Homo sapiens: one gene and its partner. The protein of the gene in region 1 purifies or fractionates together with the protein of each later gene. This does not show direct contact. Each region holds a gene or a part of one and is shown on either strand. Other genes may lie near its edges.

Region 1 (7,021 bases):
ATACAAGAAGGTGGCTGGCCGGGCAAGGTGGCTGGTACCTATAATCCCAGCACTTTGGGAGGCTGAGGTGGGTGGATCACTTGAGCTCAGAAGTTTGAGATCAGACTGGGCAACATGTTGAAACCCTGTCTTTACAGAAAATACAAAATTTAGCTGGGCATGGTGGTGTGCACCTGTAGTTGCAACTACTCAGGAGGCTGAGATGAAAAAAAGGATCCCTTGAGCCTGGGAGGTGGAGGTTGCAGTGAGCCAAGATTGCACTACTGCACTCCAGTTTGGGTGACAGAGTATGACCCTGTCTCAAAATAAATAAATAAATAAATAAAATCCCAAAGTGCTGGGATTACAGGCCACTGCGCCCAGCCATAACGTTTTTTTGAGTGCAAATTAAATCATTGTTTCTTGGCTACAATAATCCTCTAGAGAGGACCAGATTGTAACTTTTCCTCATATTTTTCGTTGGTGCCCTAATGGAATAGGTTCCTTTTTCTGTTCTAATGCACAAATTACTCTTATAATTGTCAAACTTATCTCCCCTCATTTTGCTTCCAAGGAAACTAAAATCATGGTATTCTGCAGATGACCAAAGATATGAATCTCCCTCATTTGGCATCGCACTGGGCCCGGATCTGTTACACTGCAAATGCCCTGCTGCTAAAACGATACAAACACCCTCCCTCTATGCCCAGGGACTATCACAGAAGAGAGAGTCTCGCTCCGTCACCCAGGCTGCAGTGCAATGGTATGATCTCGGCTCACTGCAAGTTCCGTCTCCTGGGTTCAAGTGATTCTCCTGCCTCAGCCTCCTGAGTAGCTGGGATTCCAGGCATCCACCAACACGCCCAGCTAATTTTTGTATTTTTATTAGAGATGGAGTTTCACCATATTGCCCAGGCTGGTCTCAAACTCCTGACCTTGTGATCCTCCTGCCTCGGCTTCCCAAAGTGCTGGGTTTACAGGTGTGAGCCACCGTGCCCAGCCTGTAGCAGATTTATATAAAAATGCAATATGCGGCTGGGTGCGGTGGCTCATTCCTGTAATCCCAGCACTTCGGGAGGCCAAGGCAGGCAGATTATGAGGTCAAGAGATTGAGACCATCCTGGCTAACACGGGGAAACTCCATCTCTACTAAAAATACAAAAAAAATTAGCCATGCATGGTGGCGGGCACCTGTAGTCCCAGCTACTCGGGAGGCTGAGGCAGGAGAATGGCGTGAACCCGGGAGGCAGAGCTTGCAGTGAGCCGAGATTGTGCCACTGCACTCCAGCCTGGGCAACAGAGCGCGACTCTGTCTCAAAAAAAAAAAAAAAGCAATACGCAGCGTAGGTCATTTGGCATGCCAGATGGGTTAGGATTAAATGTTAAAAAGGAATACGGAGAAAAGTAGAAGAAAATACAACTAAATATTTCACTGATCTCAGATTGAGGAAAGACTTTCTAGGTGTCAAAATAATGGCAATAAATCAGAAAGGAAAATATTGATAGATTTTTCACTACATAAAACTGTTTGCTGGCTGGGCGTGGTGGCTCACGCGTGTAATCCCAGCACTTCAGGAGGCCAAGGCAGGTGGATCACCTGAGGTTAGGAGTTTGAGACCAGCCTGGCCAAAATGGTGAAACTTCGTCTCTACTAAAAATACAAAAATTAGCTGGGCATGGTGGCAGGCGCCTGTAATCCCACCTACCCAGGAGGCTGAGGCAGGGGAATCACTTGAACCCGAGAGGCGGAGGTTGCAGTGAGCTGAGATCACATCATTGCATTCAAGCCTGGACGACAGAGCAAGACTCCGTCTCAAAAAAAAAAAAAAAAAAAGGCCAGGCGCGGTGGCTCACACCTGTAATCCCAGGACTTTGGGAGGCTGAGGCGGGCAGATCACAAGGTCAGGAGATCAAGACTATCCTGGCCAACATGGTGAAACCCTGTCTCTATTAAAAATACAAGGCCAGGCGCGGTGGTTTACGCCTGTAATCCCAGCACTTTGGGAGGCCGAGACGGGCGGATCACGAGGTCAGGAGATCAAGACCATCCTGGCTAACACAGTGAAACCCCGTCTCTACTAAAAATACAAAAAATTAGCCAGGCGTGGTGGCGGGCGCCTGTAGTCCCAGCTACTCGGGAGGCTGAGGCAGGAGAATGGCATGAACCCGGGAGGCGGAGCTTGCAGTGAGCCGAGATCACGCCACTGTACTCCAGCCTGGGCGACAGAGCGAGACTCTGTCTTAAAATAAATAAATAAATAAATAAAACCAAGCTGTGCTCTGACCACCTTGGGCACATGTCATTAGGACCCCCTGAGGCTGTGTCACAGATAAGTGTCCCCAAACTTGGCAAAATAAACTCTCTAAATTAACTGATACGTGTCTCAGCTATTCATAGTTCAAAAGTACATAGGCAAAAAATTGCAAACATTTCTAAGGAGAAATTTTCTAAAGTCTGCTCTAGTGAATAAAAGCTATTTGGCCAGGCACGCTGGCTCATACCTGTAATCCCAACACTTTGGGAGGCCAAGGTGGGTGTATTGCTTGGCCAAAGTTGGTTCAAGCCGTGAGGAGAAGGAGAAATTGGGTATGCCTCGTTATACCTGCCTCTCTTTTGGAATTCAGGAAAAGGTGACTAGCATTAACATGAACACAGACCTTAAGTTTGATAAGAAAGCTTTTTACAATCTATTCCCTCTGAAGCCTGCTACCCGGAGGCTTCATCTGCATGATAAAACTCTGGTCTCCACAACCCCTTACCGTCATAACCCAGACATTCCTTTCTATTGATTCCAGGTCTTTAGACCATAACTCTTTCAACCAATTGCCAATCAGAAAAAATTTAAATCTATCTATAACCTGGAATCATCCCCCTTTGAGTTGTCCCACCTTTCCAGATCGAACCAATGTACATCTTTTTTTTTTTTTTTTTTGAGACAGAGTCTCACTCTGTCGCCCAGGCTGGAGTGCAGTGGCACCATCTCGGCTCACTGCAAGCTCCACCTCCCGGGTTCATGCCATTCTCCTGCCTCAGCCTCCCGAGTAGCTGGGACTACAGGTGCCTGCCACCACACCCAGCTAATTTTTTGTATTTTTAGTAGAGACGAGGTTTTACTGTGTTAGCCAGGATGGTCTCGATCTCCTGACCTCGTGATCCACCCGTCTCGGCCTCCCAAAGTGCTGGGATTACAGGAGTGAGCCACCGCGCCCGGCCGAACCAGTGTACATCTTACAGGTACTGACTGATGTATTCTCTCTCCCTAAAATGTATAAAAGCAAGCTGTACCCTGCCAACCTTGAACATATGTCCTGAGGACCTCCTGAGGCTGTGTCACAGGTGCATCTTTAACCTTGGCAAAATAAACTTTCTAAATTGATTGAGACCTGTCTCAGATACTTTTGGGTTCACACATCCTACCTGAGATTTTCTCCATCTCTTCTAATAGCTTTTCCAAGTCCTTATTCAGATCTGACAGCATTTTCAGCATGTTGTCATAGTTTCTTTCCTCAGGGTCAGCATCATCCATCTAGGCAATGCACAGAAAGAAGCTGCAGTCAGACAGACCTACATTTCAAATCCAGCTCCACTGGTTATAACTCAGTGATTTCTCTAAGGAATTCTTTCCCCATCTCTCAGATTCAGACAATACCACGTACTCCACAGGGCTGTTGTGAAGGTTAAATGGGAACATGTCTAAAGGCCCCAGCATAGCATTCGGCACATATAAGTTGTCCTTCCCCTTTCTTCCATCTTTGCCATACAAACGTAGCTGAAGGCTGGAGTCATTAACACAGAAAACATCTTCATTATAATGAAAAAAGTCTGTCATAATGGTGACATGGAATTTTTTCTTGCAAAACCATATTGAGTACCCACTAAGATGCAAGCTATTGTGCTGATGTGTTTCAAAGATACAATTCCTGTACCTAAGGAATTTCTAGTGCAATATGGGAGTAAGTCACACACACCATATGACAAACCAGGATGTGACAGATGTCGAAGCAGTTAATGTAATAATTACAGACATCAAGCGATGGGAGCCTGGAGGCGGGTACGTTTAATTTTAAAATATGAAATGATTCATACATTAAAAAAAATTATAATCAACTTAACTTTCCAGAAGAATTCTCCTGGGCATTAGAGGCAGTGCCCCATAGAGACTGTCCTGGTTCTGGAATTGAGCTGCCTGGGTTCAAATCTTGGCGCTACCTCATATCAGCAGTGTTACTTTTGGCAACTTACACATCTTCTCGACAAATTTTTGGTAATTTTTTTGAGTTTTTTTTTTTTTTTTGAGACGAAGTTTTGCTCTTGTTGCCCAGGCTGGAGCACAGTGGCACGATCTCGGCTCACCACAACCTCTGCTTCCTGGGTTCAAGTGATTCTCCTGCCTCAGCCTCCTGAGTAGCTGGGATTACAGGCAAGTGCCACCACGCCCGGCTAATTTTGTATTTTTAGTAGAGATGGGGTTTCTCCATGTTGGCCAGGCTGGTCTCAAACTCCTGACCTCAGGTGATCTATCCACCTCGGCCTCCCAAAGTGCTGAGATTACAGATGTGAGCCACCACACCCAGCCAAGTTTTGTATTTTTTAAACGGGAATTATTAGTATTACCTATATCTTGTGGAGTTTTGTGAGGATTAATTGAAATAAATTATATACTGTTCAGCACAGTACCTACCGTAATGAGCACTTAATAAATCATATCCGTTGTTATTTAAAATGTTGAACAGTAATTACATCACTCCAGATCCTCTCCTCACCTTTATTAATATACATTAATTCATTCTGTTAATATTTGATGCTCACCTATTTATCTACAAGGCACTAGTAAGAAAAGAGAGAAATAGATAAATAATGTAAGAGCTGCCAGGGAACTTGTAACCTCATGAAGGTGAAGGAATGAGCCAGGTAAGCATAAAACAGGGAGGGATGGGCCACAGATGCTGCGGTATTGTTCCCACTGTACATGTGGGGAAAGCCTTCCTGGTCTTTACTTCAGAGTTAAGGGCCTCCACTCAGTTCTCCTGTGACTTCCTGGGCCTCCCTCATCACGGTGCCTCTTAGCTGGTATTGTGATTGTGGATTCCTCTACCTCCCCAACTAGACTGTGGGGTCCTGGAAAGCAGAGGCCATCTTTCCAATGAACTATTCCTAGTGTTCAGCTCAGAGCTAGGAAAACAGCAAGTGCTTAATAAATGTTGGCTGAATAAAGGAGTTGACCATTGTAAAGCTCTAATTCTGAAAGAAAATCATGATCGTGGCCAAGCGCGGAGGCTCATGCCTGTAATCCCAACACTTTGGGAGGCCGAGGTGGGTGGATCACCTGAGGTCAGGAGTTTGGGACCAGCCTGGCCAACATGGTGAAACCCAGTCTCTACTAAAAATATAAAAATTAGCCGGGTGTGGCGGCAGGTGCCTAATCCCAGCTACTGGGATTACTGGGGAGGCTGAGGCAGGAGAATCGCTTGAACCCGGGAGGTGGAGGTTGCAGTGAGCCGAGATTGTGCCATTGCACTCCAGTCTGGGTGACAAGAGCGAAACTTCATCTCAAAAAAAAAAAAGAAAGAAAATTATTATCTTTCCCCTCTTGCCGTCCTCCCTGTTAAGGGTAGAGATTCTGAGGGAGGAGCAAAGGGCCCTCCAGGAGGCCTGACAGGCAGATCTGAGAATGAGGGTGCAGGGTCAGGGTGTATGGTCTTTCGGGATCTGTAAAGGAGGTACTTCTGTGGGCATGGAGCCATTCCACGTGCAGGGACTCCGTCCTGCTTTTTGGTAAGTAGGAATAGTTTGCTAAGAGTAAGTGGGGAGGTACAGGCAGGTGGCAGGGCAGGGGGCTAATAGTGGGTGATGGGAGGAAGAAATGTCCAGAACACCTTCCTTAACCCTCTCCTATAGCTATTCCCTCTCCTTCCTTTAGCAGCCAGGCCTCACACGTTTGTCTGTCCTCCTCACTCCACTGTCATCTGGCATCTGTCTCTGACATTCACTGACAATGCTCTCACCAAAGTCATAACTGGCACACCCAGGGCACTTTCTGTCTTTCTTTTATTTAACATCTCTGCAGCACTGACATTTGGCCATTTTCTCCTGCTCAAAATTCTCTTCTCTTGATGTTTTAACCTTGTTCTCTCCAAACTCTGTCCACCTGTGGTAGTTCCTTCCCTGCTCTTTCTTGGCTCTCTCCTTTACTGGCTCTAATGGGTCAAGGAAGGTCCTTTTAGCCCCTTCTCTTCTCACTACACACTCTTTTTTTTTTTTTCTTGAGACGGAGTCTCACTCTGTTGCCCAGGCTGGAGTGCAGTGGCGTCATATCGGCTCACCACAACCTCCGCCTCCCAGGTTCAAGCAATTCTCCTGCCTCAGCCTTCCAAGTAGCTGGGATTACAGGTGCCCGCCACCATGCCCAGATAATTTTTGTATTTTTAGTAGAGACGGGGTTTCGCCATATTGGCCAGGCTGGTCTCAAACTCCTGAACCTCAGGTGATCCGCCTGCTTCGGCCTCCCAAGTCCTGGGATTACAGGTGTGAGCCACTATGCCTGGCCAGAACTTCGATTTTTATTCTGAATGAGATGAGGAAACACTGGAAAAATCTGACAAAGGTGATGTGATTTGAATAATGACTTAAAAGGATCACTCTGGCTTCTGTGTTGAGAATAGACTAAGGGGTGGAAAGCATGGAACAGGGACATCATTTAGGAGGCAGCTGCAAAACTCCAGGTAAGGAATGATGAGGCTTGGACCAGAGTGTTAGAAGTGGAGGTAGCCGCCAGGCTTAGTCGGTCATGCCTGTAATCCCAGCACTTTGGAAGGCAGAGGCGGGGGATCACAAGGTCAGGAGTTCGAGACCCGCCTGGCCAATATGGCAAAACCCCATCTCTACTAAAAATACAAAAATTAGCTGGGCATGGTGACGGGCGCCTGTAGTCCCAGCTACTCAGGAGGCTGAGGCAGAAGAATCCCTTGAACCCAGAAGGTGGAGGTTGCAGTGAGCCGAGATCATGCCACTGCACTCCAGCCTGGGTGACAGAGCAACACT
Region 2 (7,493 bases), on another chromosome or scaffold:
CAGTGGGTGTGGCCAGGCACAGTACCTCACAACTGTAATCCCGGCACTATGGGAGGCGGAGGTGGGAGGATTGCTTGAGCCCGAGAGTTTGAGACCAGCCTGGCCAACATGGCAAGAACCCATCTCTACAGAAACAATTAGCCAGGTATGGTGGCATACACCTGTGACCCCAGGTACTTGGGAGGCTGAGGCGGGAGGATTGCTTGAGCCCAGACCAGAAGGTCAAGGCTGCAGTAAGCCATGATCACACCACTGCACTCCAGCCTGGGCAACAGAGCAAGGCCCTGTCTGAAAAAAAAAAAAAAAATAGTGGGTAGCACTCACAAAGGGATTTCCTCTAAATATATGGAAGAGGTCAGGCATGGTGGCTCATGTCTGTAATCCCAACACTTTGAGAGGCCAAGGCAGGAGGATTGCTTGAGCCCAGGATTTGGAGACCAGTCTGTGCAACATAGTGAGACATCATCTCTACAAAAAAAATAAAAAAATGTGGTAGGAGGATTGTTTGAGCACAGGAGGTTGAGGCTGCAATGAGCTGTGATCGCGCCACTGCACTCCTGCCTGGGTGACAAAGCAAGACCCTGCCTCAAAAAAAAAAAAAAAAAAAAAAAATTAAATATATGGAAGAACTTTCCATGATACCTCTACATTAGGACAAAGTTGTTTCCAGGGCATGTACTTAATAAGGGGCAAGGCAAAGGTAAGAACAAGACAGTTGTTCAATTAAACAGAAGAAACGAATCCAGCATTTTGCAATTTTCTTCTCAGTGGGGCTGGGGGGAGGTAGGAAGGACATTGGGGGAAGGGGCCAGGGCATGCTTCAGGTGTGCAAATTGCTACACACAATGAGAAGGTGGGCTGTGTGTCCCAACTTCAGGGAAGGTGCTCGTTAGCTGGGTAAATGCTGCGCTCTCAGCATTTACTCAGCAGGGTTTGTATTTAGAGGAAGCTCTTATTCAAGCCAGAATTCACAGCTCCCGTGGGTCTCACTCCATCAGCAGGGCCCCAGTGAGAGCTGAGAGGAATTCGGGAAGATTGTGATGGGGACAACAGCAAGATGCTGGCAAGGGATTTTAAGTGGGCATCTTTGCCCTTCTGAAGGCTGTGGCAGTCCCTGGAATAATTCCAGATGAACAGGCATATTAGGAAAATTACTATTATTATGCATTACAACGTTACAAAGAATACATGTGTCCTTTTATAGCATCATACAAAAAATGTCTTAGAACAAGGTGTGGAGAGTTTTTCTGAGCTTTCCTGCTTCCCAGCCTGGTCTGTGTGTTCTCACAGATTTCCTCAGAACCCATTTTCCATTCGTTGACCACAGACGAGGATGCACATGGAAGCTGCTTGTGATTTCCGCCAGGGCTGGAACGAGGGCAGGATTTCTTCATGGATTTATACAGATAGTTTCTGCTTTCTTTGGGGGTGGGAGGTGGACTGTATTAGTACTGAAGCATGCAAAGAAGCTGAAATGTTTTATAAGTCCTATCCTGCACGTGTCAAAATGGCTTGTGATGTGCTGCCAAGGACACCCTCAAGAAAGTAAAAAGACAGCTCACAGAATGGAAGAAGATATTTGCAAATCACATATCTGATAAGGAACTTCTATCCACAATATGTAGAGGATTCTTACAACTCAATAATAAAAAGACAAATACTCAATTAAAAAATGGGCAAAGGATTTGAATAGACATCACTCAGAAGTTGTTATACAAATGGCCAATAATTAACACATGACAAGATGCCCAGTGTCATTATCCATCAGGGAAATAGAAATCAAAACCATCATGAAGTACAATTTCACACCTGCTAGGATGGTCATAATCCAAAAACAATAACAAGTGTTGGTGAAGATGCAGGGAAATTGGAACACTGCTGGTTGGTGAGAATGGAAAACGGTGCAGCCACTTTGGAAAACCGTGGAAATTTCTCCAAAGGTTAAACACAGAGGTAAGCCTGGTGTGGTGGCTCACACTTGTAATCCCAGTGCTTTGGGAGGCCGAGGTAGGAGCCAGGAGTTCGAGACCAGCTTGAACAAGATAGTGAGACCCCATCTCTATAAAAACGTTTTCTAAAAAAAACTGTAGAGTTAGCATGTGACCCAGAAATCCTGCTCCGGTATATGCTCAAAAACCTATGTCCACACATTGCATGATTCCATTTGTATGAAATGTCCAGAATAGGCAAATCTACAGAGATGGTAGACTTATGGTTACCTAGAGCTGGGGATGTTGGGAAGGAGGGAGAGTGGTTTCTAATGGGTACTGATTGATTTTTGCACTGGGGCGTGGGGTGATGAAAATGTTGTATAACTCATTATGGCCATAGCTGCACAACGCTGTGGATATACTAAAAACTTTCATTGAATCGTACCCTCTAAATGGGTGAATTGTATGGTATGTGAATGATAGCTCAATAAAGCTGTTATTAAAAAAGAGAAAACCTTTGGGTATAAGCCCAGTAACGGGATTGCTGGGTGGAATGTTATTTCCATTATAAGGTCTTTGAGGAATTGCCACACTGTCTTCCACAATGGTTGAACTAATTTCCACTCCCACTAACAGTGTATAAATGTTTCTTTTCCTCCACAGCCTCGCCACCATCTGTTATTTTTTGACTTTTTAATAATAGCCATTCTGACTGGTGTGAGATGGTATCTAGTTGTGGTTTTGATTTGCATTTCTCTAATGATCAGTGATGTTGAGGCTTTTCTTTCATATGATTGTTGGCCACATGTATGTCTTCTTTTGAAGAGTGTCTGTTCATGTCCTTTGCCCACTTTTTAATGGGGCTGTTTGTTGTTTTCTTGTAAATTTAAGTTATTTATAGATGCTGGATATTAGACCTTTGTCAGATGCATAGTTTGCAAAAATTTTCTCCCATTCTGTAGGTTGTTTGTTCACTCTGTTGACACATACATGTGTATGTTCATTGCAGCACTATTCACAATAGCCAAGACATGAAATCAATCTAAATGCTCATCAATGGTAGATTGAATAAAGAAAATGTGGTACATACACACCATGGAATACTATGCAGCCATAAAAAAGAATGAGATCATGTCCTTTGCAGGAACATGGATGGAGCTGGAGGCCATTATTCTTAGCAAACAAATGCAGAAACAGAAAACCAAATGCCCCATGTTCTTACTCATAAGTGGGAGCTAAATGATGAGAACACATGGACACATGGAGGGGAACAACACACACTGTGGCCTATCAGAGGGTGAAGGGTGGGAGGAAGGAGAGGATCAGGAAAAATAACTAATGGGTACTAGCCTTAATGCCTGGGTGATGAAATAATCTATACAACACACCCCAATGACACAAGTTTACCTGTGTAACAAACCTGCACATATACCCCTGAACTTAAATGAAAAACAACAGATTGTATTCCATAAATATATACAATTATTTGTCAATTAAAAATAAAGTTTAAAAATAATATTGCAATTGAAAAAAGAAAAACCTCCAAGTCTGTGACAGCGTCCGGTGCATTCTATCTTTTAGAAAACAATGACCCAGGTGCGGTGGCTCACGCCTGTAATCCTAGCACTTGGAGAGGCTGAGGCGGGCGGGTCGCTTGAACTCGGGAATTCGACAGCAGCCTGGCCAACATAGTGAAACCCCGTCTCTACTAAAAATACAAAAAAAAAAAAAAAAAAAAAAAAATTAGCCGGACATGGTGAGGTGCGTGCCTGTAATCCCAGCTACTCTGAAGGCTGAGGTGGGAGGATCGCTTGAGCCCCGAGAAGCAGAGGTTGTAGTGAGCCTAGAGCAGAGATCGCGCCACTGCACTCCAGCCTGGGCGATAGCGACAGACTTTGTCTCAAAAAAGATAAAAAATAAGAATAATGGTATTACCCTCAGTGGTAACACTATTTTCTTTTAATATTTGTGTCCAAATTCGTGAAGTGCCTAAGATCCGAGTGAGGGCCCCTTTGAGTTCACGGCATTTTCAAAGGTCAGGCAGGCAGCGTACTTGGAGTCTATCTTCCAGACAAAATTTGTTGCTGGTGCCTCCCTGTGCCTTGTCAAGGTCACGGCGAAAGCCAGGACGAGCTCGCCTCCGGCACAGGGCTCACGGGGGGCCGTGCGCTTGGCAACCAGGGATGAAGCATCCGTTCATCCCAATGCCGGGTGAAAACTATTAATACGTCTGTATTGAGTTGGGAATAGAACATTTCCATCCAACCGATGCTTTGAAAGAGTTTTTACCCTGCTCGAATGCTTCAAGTTGTTTTGAGAAAAAAGAAATTGGAGCTCCTAATGGTGGTCAGGCTAGAGGGATGGCCAAAACAAAAAACAAAAAACAAAACAAAAAAAAAAACAACCCCAATTCCTGTTCCCGTGTTCGGCGTCTCCCGGCTGCGGGCGGGCGCTGCCTGGAGGGGGCAGCAGGGGGCACCCTCCCCGCTCCTGCCCCGCCGCCCTCCCCGGCCCCCTCCCCGCCCCTCGCTCGCCCTGACGTCCCCAGCCCCCGCCTCTTTCTCTCCGGCCTTCAAAGGGCGCTGGGGGCCTTGGGGCCTGAGCGTCAGGCTGCAGCCTAGGGGTACTGCCGTCTTCGGCCCGCCGCGGGGTCCCCGGTGCGCTCCGTTCCCTCGATTCCCGTAGCGTCCCGCGCTTCAGGAGCAGGTGCCGGGACCGCCTGCGCGGCTGCTGTAACTTGTGCCTCCTAGCGGATCGCAGCCGCTGGCCACTCGCCCAGGGGAAGGGCGCGCAGGCGGGCACATGGAGAGCGGCGGTGGGAATGCTCCGGCCGGGGCCCTCGGGGCGGCGAGCGAGTCCCCTCAGTGCCCGCCGCCGCCGGGGGTGGAGGGCGCGGCCGGGCCGGCGGAGCCCGACGGGGCGGCGGAGGGCGCGGCAGGCGGCAGCGGCGAGGGCGAGAGTGGGGGCGGGCCGCGGCGGGCTCTGCGGGCAGTATACGTGCGCAGTGAGAGCTCCCAGGGCGGCGCGGCCGGCGGCCCGGAGGCTGGGGCGCGGCAGTGCCTGCTGCGGGCCTGCGAGGCCGAGGGCGCTCACCTCACCTCCGTGCCCTTCGGGGAGCTGGACTTCGGGGAGACGGCCGTGCTCGACGCCTTCTACGACGCAGGTGAGAGCGGCTTCGTCCCCACCTCAGTCCCAGTTCACCTACCCTCACACGAGCCAGGGCACCCGCCCCGCCCCCTCGCCCTTCTCCCCCGTCCCCCTCCCCCTCGTCCCCCTCCCCTCCCCCTCGTCCCCCTCCCCTCCCCCTCGTCCCCCTCCCCTCCCCCTAGTCCCCCTCCCCTCCCCCAGTCCCCCTCGTCTCTAGTCCCCCTCCCCTTATCCCCCTCCCCTTATCCCCCTCCCCCAGTCCCCCCTCCCGCAGGCCCCCCTCCCCTTAGTCCCCTCTCCCCTTAGTCTCCCTCCCCTTAGTCCACCTCCCCTTCCCCTAGTCCCCTTCCTCTCATCCCCCTCCCCTTAGCCCCCCTCCTATCCTCTCACCCCCTGATCCGTCCAACAGGACCGTCCTGCCTTTGGGGGAGGGTAGAGTCTTTAACATTGTGCCCTTTTACAGATAAGAAAATAGAGGCCACGGGCATTTAGACTCTTTGATTCTTCAGGCATCTTAAACATCAGATAACCCAAGAAACAGCCTGTAACCCAGACCCTACCAAGCCCCCCTTCTCCCAAGTTATCCAACTTTTGCTTTCTCATTCCTGGAAGGTCTCTTACGGCCGTGGGTCCCAACGCAGGCTACATATTAGAATCACCTGGGGAGCTTTTAAAACTCTGGGTGCCCAGATCGGACCCCAGACCAATGACATAAGCACCCGAGGCCTTAGAAGTGTCATGCTTCCCAGGCGATTCCATTTTGCAGCCAGGAGTGGAAATCGGTGTCTTACGTGTGTGTGTGTTGCCTCTACTTAGAAATACCCAGTGTTCTTTTGCACACTTCAATTCTCGTCCCCAAAACACTGACGGTGGAGTGTGAGCCACCACCCTGTGACGTATATTTTATCCCATAATGCACAGCATTCACGGGTTAGGGGGCACCTTTGCTGGAGTGGGACTCTAGGTCTCTAAACTCACTATAATAAATGTGCCTGAGAATCCAGCCTTAAGAAGCGTACTTTGGATTGGCAAGAGTTTCTCTCGGTGTGGAATGAATTGTTGCTTGACGTTTTTTCCCTTACAGCACCTTTGGTGACAAACCTCTGTCACCTGGGTGACGTTCAGAAGCATTATATGTGAGACAGTAATTACCTGGGAGTCCTTGTGCCTCAGTTTCTGGTCAAAGGGAGTTAACAGTGCCTACCCTAAACCTAAAAGCTGATGAGATAGGATATGGGAAGTTGCTTTGCTGTAATAGTAAGCTAGGATGATTAGGATTCAGCCTCTGCTGGAGGCAGCGCAGATCTGTTTTTCTTGCAGAGCAAATTCTCCCCAGCTGGAAGGGCGGGGTAGGGGGGGAGTCAGGCTTGTTTAAACAAGTGGCAGCTGGACCCATTGAAAGCACTCTCCTGACATTTCTGACCACACTGAGTATACTCTTCAGCACAACATCTTTTTAGAAAAGTCGTTCAGGAGTCCACTTCACCTAGAACCACTCCGTTTTCTCAACTTGTATTCATTCTGCTCCAAAATTGGAGTTTGAACAGACTCTTCTCTGAACGGTTAAATGTTCCTTTTGCCATGAGGCACAACACTCTCCTTCCTGCTGGTGCCACCTCTGAAAGATTTGTGTGCGGTGGCTTTTGCTTTCCCTGGGGCGGAGTGTGTGTGTACGGGGGGCCCTTCTAACAGGTCGACTGTGAAGATGCAGACGTCAAATCTCAGGCTTTCAATTCTGGAGCCACACAACAGACACGTCACCTTGGCTCACTCTGGCCTGGGTGGCCTAGAATGTTGGGCTGTACCACGAGCTCCCTTTGGTTAACCTTGTCCTGGTCTTGAGTAAATCATTTCTCAGTGCATTAGAATTGCTTTCAGAGGTTTGAGAAAGTACATACACAGTAAGTGGGTTCCTGGGCTAAACAGATGAGCACCTCCACTGTCTCCTGGATTCGTCCTCCATCACTCACTGCTTTTTGATGTTTCCACCAAAAAAGATACAGAGCTCTCACTTTGGCTTCTTTGTAAAAATTCTAAAACCACTCTGTCCAATTTGGTAGCCACTAGCCACAGGTGGCTCTTGACAGTTAAACTGATTAGAATACGGTAAAAATGGTAAGATCCTTAGTTGCACTAGTGGCATTTAAGGCGCTTGATAGGCCAGGTGCAGTGGCTCACGCCTGTAATCCCAGCCCTTTGGAAGGCCAAGGCGGGAGGATTGCTTGAGTACAGGAGTTCAAGACCAACCTGAGCAAAAAAAAAAAAAAAAAAAAAGCAGGATGTGGTGGCACCCATGTGCCTGTGGTCCCAGCTACCTGGGAGGTGGAGGCAGGAGGATCACTTAAGCCCGGGAGGTCGATGCTGCGGTGACCTGTGTTTATGCCACTGCACTCCAGCCTGGGTGACAGATCGAGA

The links. The genes of interacting proteins can lie anywhere in the genome.
Region 2: the proteins of SYCE3 (region 1) and MAP3K15 purify together in Homo sapiens (affinity purification with mass spectrometry; 2 studies listed by BioGRID and IntAct, with this or other methods). This does not show direct contact.

What each region holds. Positions count from the first base shown.
Region 1 is NC_000022.11:50,552,900-50,559,920, forward strand, and holds part of SYCE3 (synaptonemal complex central element protein 3), read right to left. Parts: intron 3,507-7,021; coding exon 3,398-3,506; intron 1-3,397. UniProt on the Homo sapiens protein: Major component of the transverse central element of synaptonemal complexes (SCS), formed between homologous chromosomes during meiotic prophase.
Region 2 is NC_000023.11:19,512,502-19,519,994, reverse strand, and holds the start of MAP3K15 (mitogen-activated protein kinase kinase kinase 15), read left to right. Parts: upstream 1-4,486; 5' UTR 4,487-4,733; coding exon 4,734-5,094; intron 5,095-7,493. UniProt on the Homo sapiens protein: Serine/threonine kinase which acts as a component of the MAP kinase signal transduction pathway. Once activated, acts as an upstream activator of the p38 MAPK signal transduction cascade through the phosphorylation and activation of several MAP kinase kinases.